2 separate regions of the Homo sapiens genome follow, and region 1 is linked to region 2. The links come from fine-mapping of genetic effects on gene expression. A gene starts in region 2. The other region holds a variant in brackets. All regions are shown on one strand. Distances are between the middles of the regions.

Region 1 (3,020 bases), 30 kb after region 2:
ATTGTGCTGCTGGTATAACAACAATCATTTTGCATAATTAACCCAATTACCACAAAAATGTTCACCAACAGACTATTATTCGTTTTCTAAGGACCAAAAATTGTAACTGTAGGCAGTTTCCAAATATTATATAAAACAGGTAGGCGTCCCTTGGTATATGCGGGGGATTGGTTCGTATAGCAAAATCCACGCACACTCAAGTCCTGCAGCCGGCCCTGTGGAACCACACATACTAAAAGTTGGTCTTCTACATACATGGGTTTTGCATCCTGGGAATACTATAATTTTGATCCATATTTAGTTGAATGAAATCTGCATGTAAGTGGATGCAAGCAGTTCAAACCCACGTTGTTCAAAAGTAGACTGTATATATACATGTTTGCAATCAGAAAGCATTTTCCCAAAAGATTTCATAAACGCCTATTAGTTATCCAAACTAAGTACCTTAAAGACTTTTAAATCCATACTGAGCCTTAAGTACAAGATCCCTTTGCTATTCCTGTATTTACTCAGTCCTCGAATACTGACAGTAAGTTTGGACAGTGAGGGGGATAACATCATCTGAATCTATGTGGTTCCTTAATTTCAAGTGATGTATACCAACTGACAGTGACAAACCTATTTTAAAAAACTTTTACCAGAAGCTCTCCAAACTCCAGCATCAAAGAGAAAGATTCTGAATACTGTAGGCTATCTATGTTGTATTTACTGTATTAACAGTCTAAACAGCCTTAACCACCACATATAACAAAGACTTGGGAACAAATGTCCAGAAGTCTAATACTTAGCATGCTGTATTAACTGCTCTCTCCATACCCTTGTAATAGTAGGTTTAGGAACTATCCAAGATTCAATTCGTTGGTGGTAGCTACTGTGTCTGGTGTAGGAGACCCAGCAAAGGTTGTTCGGGGAGTGGGAGCAAGCAAGAAACCTGAGCAAGGTCAGGGACTCTTGACAGGGAGACGACTGGAATAGGGGATGAAGAACTATGTGGGGCGAGGCCCTGAGGTAGATTTCTCAGGACATTTCCATCATGCCTGCATGGCTCCCAGGAGAAGTATAAAGACCTTATTCTCCTCAGCTCCCTGGATGTCCGCCAGGCCTGACATATTTGCTGTTGAAAAGGTGGAGAGAGATGAACATATACTGCCTACTAACCTACTGTGCCAAAGCAGGTAACTCAATGTACATTAAAAAGTATAAACATGGGCCGGATGTGGTGGCTCATGCCTGTAATCCCAGCACTTTGGGAGGCCGAGGCTAGCGGATCACGAGGTCAGGAGTTTGAGACCACCCTGGCCTGACCAATATGGTGAAACCCCGTCTCTACTAAAAATACAAAAATTAGCCAGGGGCGTGGTGGTGCTCGCCTGTAGTCCCAGCTTACTCAGGAGGCTGAGGCAGAAGAATCGCTTGAACCCGGGAGGCGGAGGTTACAGTGAGCCAAGATCGTGCCACTGCACTCCAGCCTGGGCAACAGAGCGAGACTCCATCTGCCAAAAAAAAAAAAAAAAAAGGCAAATAAAAGAAAAGAAGTATAAACATGTCAGGGATTGCTTTTTTTTTTTTTTTTTTCCCTTGAGACAGAGTTTTGCCCTTGTTGCCCAGGCTGGAGTACAATGGCGTGATCTTGGCTCATGGCAACCTCTGCCTCCCGGGTTCAAGCAATTCTCCGGCCTCAGCCTCCCAAGTAGCTGGGATTACAGGTGCCTGCCACCATGCCCAACTAATTTTTTGTATTTTTAGTAGAGAC[G/A]GGGTTTCACAATGTTGGTCAGGCTGGTCTCTGAACTCCTGACCTCAGATATCCACCCGCCTCGGCCTCCCAAAGTGTTGGGATTACAGGCGTGAGCCACCGCGCCTGGCCGCTTTTTTTTCTTTTCTTTTTTTTTTTTTTAAGATGGAGTCTCACTCTATTGACCAGGCTGGAGTGCAGTGGCATGATCTCGGCTCACTGCAACCTCTGCCTCCCGGGTTCAAGCAATTCCCCTGCCTCAGCCTCCAGAGTAGCTGGGACTATGAGTGCCCACCACCACGCCTGGCTAATTTTTGTATTTTTAGTAGAGATGAGGTTTCACCATGTTGGCCAGGCTGGTCTCGAACACCTGACCTCAGGTGATCCGCCTGCCTCGGCCTCCCAAAGTGCTGGGATTACAGGCATGAGCCACCGCGCCTGGCTGTCAGGGATTGCTTGTAAATGTACTGTAAGTAACACGACACAAGAAATGTAAAAATAGAAATGGTAAAGTCTCACTATAAGATTTAATTATTTACGATCTTTAGGAAATAAGTCACAAACTATTTTCTCTATTTCTTTGAAAAATATAAAAATTGGGCAAGGCATAAAAGTAACAATTACTTCCAAAGTTGATACTGATTTGCATTTAAAGCACCAATATTTGAACAGGTAATACTATAAAAACGTGTACTTAGCCTACACATTAGAGATAATACATGAGATGGCTTCTGAGGCACTATTTTTTTAAAAAGGATTTAGATACTTAAATTTGAAGTGCATGTGGGAAAAAAAAATTTTAACAAAGTATTTGCTCATTACCTGTATGTTTTCGAAGATGTTCTTTAAAATGTCCAAAATGGTCAAACTGTTTCTCACAGTACTGACATACATGAATTTTTTTCCCAGTTCTTTGCTTCTTACTGACTCCACCTTCTTCAAGGTGGTAACAATTTAGGTGCTGTTTCCATGCGCTCTCTCGAAGATATCGTTTATTGCATATTTCACACTTGAAACTCTCAGTGGAGTGTGATTTCATGTGCTCCTTAAAATGGTAAAACAATTTAAATGAACGGTTACATTTCTCACAATGGAACAAGTCCTTCACATGTGACAGCTGAAGTTCCACAATTTCAATACCTTCTACCTGTTTGCTCGTGGGGTCAGATGGACAGCCATCTTCTTTAATCTGCCCTTTTCTGTCACCTTGACGGTACTTGCTGGTAATATCTGCCAACAGTGCTAGAGCAGAATCATCAGAGGAACCTGTGCTCTGTATGTACTTTAC
Region 2 (2,500 bases):
GTTCTGTGAATCACATTGAATACTGATGATGCAAGCTAGTGTGATACATACTTTTCAAACATTAAAAAAAATCTTATTACCATAAACAAATATTCACCTTAGATTTCCATTTGAAATCTTGACTTGGAATCACTTTTTTTCATCTGGTTTCGTTTGTTTCCCTTTTGGATTCCCGCGGCCTCAATTGCAAACGCGATTTGTGTAATTTCCAAACTTGTCAGAACTGCACGGGTAAGAGCTTAGAATGTGATTCATTCGCTCTTATTTTGAAACGGGATGAGGAATGGGGTGGGGGAGGGGGGGTAGACAGAGAGCCCTCTTGTCTACTGTACTCAGGAGGACGAAAACAGGGGAGGGAAGGGGAAAAGAGAGGAGAAAGGGAGAAAGGGAGGGAGGGAGGAGGAGAAGAGAAGGGGAGAGGAGGAGGAGGAAAGGAGGGAGGGAGAAGAGGGAAAAGGAGGGAAGGAGGGAAGGAAAAAACAGAAAGGAAAGAAGTGCTATAGCAGAATCTTTGCTGCCCATGTTATCTATTGCCTTGACTTCTCCATCTGCCAAGATGTGTCAAGCACGCAGAAGCTGGCTGGAATCGATATTTTAAAGACCCGGTTGCGATCTTTTCCTGGTCGTATCAAGGAGTCCTGGAGCTTCTAATATTCCTGGAGGGATATCCAGGAAGAGGAAAAGAGGCTCTTCCTTACTTCGTGCGGTCTTCCAAAAGAAGCACCTTTCGCTGGGGAGAGTCGCGGCGTGGGGTGCAATGGAAGGTTTTGTTCTCCTGGGCCACATGCGTTAGATGTCAGTTCTCTCCACCAGCAGCACCGGCCGGCGCGCGTGGGGAGATCACGCCGGTCTTCTGCCCTTGTAACAAACGCTCCAGATTTGGTCTGGTGCCTTAGGGCTCTGGTCCAGCGCACCCGCTGTGCGCAACGCTAGGCGCTAAGCTGCGCTCCTCGGCTCACGTGTGGACGCGCACGCAGACACGAGTGTCCACACCATACAGAGACATGGGTGCACACACGCGCGCACATAGACATGGGCGCCGCACATGACACGGGCACCACACATGACACGGGCACACACGCGCGAGCACGCTCTCGCCCTGGCTCTAATGCCCCCTCCTCTCGCTTGCGGATCGGCCTGGGCAGGTGTGGGGGTACGCCCCAGAAAGCGCCTAACCTTCTTCTGACCCCACTTCGCAGACACCCCGTGGCAGGGCTTCCTTTCTTCCTTGGGTCGCGGGGAGGAGAGGCGCCTCCTCCTCAGCCACCCAGGTCTGCAGCCTAGCAGAGGAAGGGTGGCGGGGTGGGGGTGCTGGCGGCGAGTCCCCCAGCCCCTCGCTTACCTTCGTGGCGAGGCCAGCTCTTGGGCTTCGCTGCACGGCGCCAGGCTAGGCGCGCTGGGTTGTTGCCTCTGGAGCAGGAGCGGTCGGTGTGTGGATGTCCCGAGGTGAGGGCGCCGCTGTCGCGCTTGAGGCTCCCGGAGCTGTCAGGGGCGGCCGACCTGACCGGCAGCGGCCCAGGGCAAACCCCGCCCTCCGGCCTAGGCCGGCTCCGCAGCGGGGACCGAGACGCCCCACAGCGTTTCCTGAAGGACCAATCCGGAGCGAGGGGCTGGCGTGGGGAAGGAGGGACGGGGGGCCTGTAGTGCACCCGGACGCCGGCCTGGACCTTGTAAGCTGGTTTCTATGGCAGCCAGGAGGGAGGGGCGAGAGGGAGGGGACGCGCGGCGCAGGGACACCCAGTGCAGTCGCTCGGGGAGGGGGGTGATTGGGCCTGACGCAAAGAGGACCCCTTCTAGAGTCTGGATGGGAGCAGCTACACGGCCGAAAGCGGGCTGACACAGCTCCCACCGACGTACGCCTCGTGCCGAGCGGTTCCAGCGCTTCAGCAAGGGTTTCCATGTCCTTGGGAAACCGTGACCCAGTAATCCTCCCAACAGAAAGGGGGTTTCCAGCAAACCACCGTGACAGCTCCTCCGGGTGAGTCGGGCAGGGTTTAGGTTCTGCAGAAAGAAGTGCTAATGTCACCCTCTGTCTGGATTCCTGGCATACATCGGTTCCCCTGGTGCCACTTTGTCACTGGCTCCCTAATCTCCTGCTAGGGAGATACTCTCGGCTGTGACCCTCAGATGCCAAAGATTATTTTTCTAGTTTATAAACTAGAAATACCGTCACTGGATTGAACGTAGAGTTGGAAATGGGATTCGCAAAATACTAAATAAAACATACCGGTTATTTACTGAAGTTTAAGCCCTTCCTTTTACAGAGAGAGAAAAAAAAAACTGAGTTCAGAGGGGTCAGTTAACTTAGCAAGGGTCACACAACTGATTAATGGCAGAGCCAGGACTAGACACCCTAAGTCATAGTTCTGCGAGCATTCTTTCTACTTCCTCCTGCTCTCCATCCTGTATTGATTGCCAGAGCAATATTTACAAGAGCAAAACTGTTAAGTAGCAACATAACCCATGTCTACAATTCTTTTATGGTAGAAACTAGGGAACC

Direction of the effects. Positions count from the first base shown, and alleles are read on the strand shown. Sizes are in standard deviations (SD) of each study's normalised expression.
For the expression in skeletal muscle of the gene that starts at base 1,529 in region 2, allele A in region 1 goes with a higher level than allele G (small effect, 0.40 SD a copy in GTEx).

What was found.
Region 1: its variant is fine-mapped to the expression of NIM1K in skeletal muscle (GTEx, PIP above 0.99). The same link has a PIP of 0.9 or more in aorta, fibroblasts, stomach, subcutaneous fat, thyroid and unexposed skin.

What each region holds. Positions count from the first base shown.
Region 1 is chr5:43,161,466-43,164,485 of GRCh38, reverse strand. It overlaps ZNF131 (zinc finger protein 131), which reads right to left. Exons shown (of 7, transcript NM_001330707.2): 5 at 2,555-3,020. Among named protein-coding and RNA genes, the nearest start is that of NIM1K, 29 kb to the left of the region's middle. The variant G/A (reference allele first, on the strand shown) is at 1,754.
Region 2 is chr5:43,191,254-43,193,753 of GRCh38, reverse strand. It overlaps NIM1K (NIM1 serine/threonine protein kinase), which reads right to left and starts at 1,529. Exons shown (of 4, transcript NM_153361.4): 1 at 1,343-1,529. RefSeq lists an enhancer at 504-1,213 and a silencer at 1,549-1,688.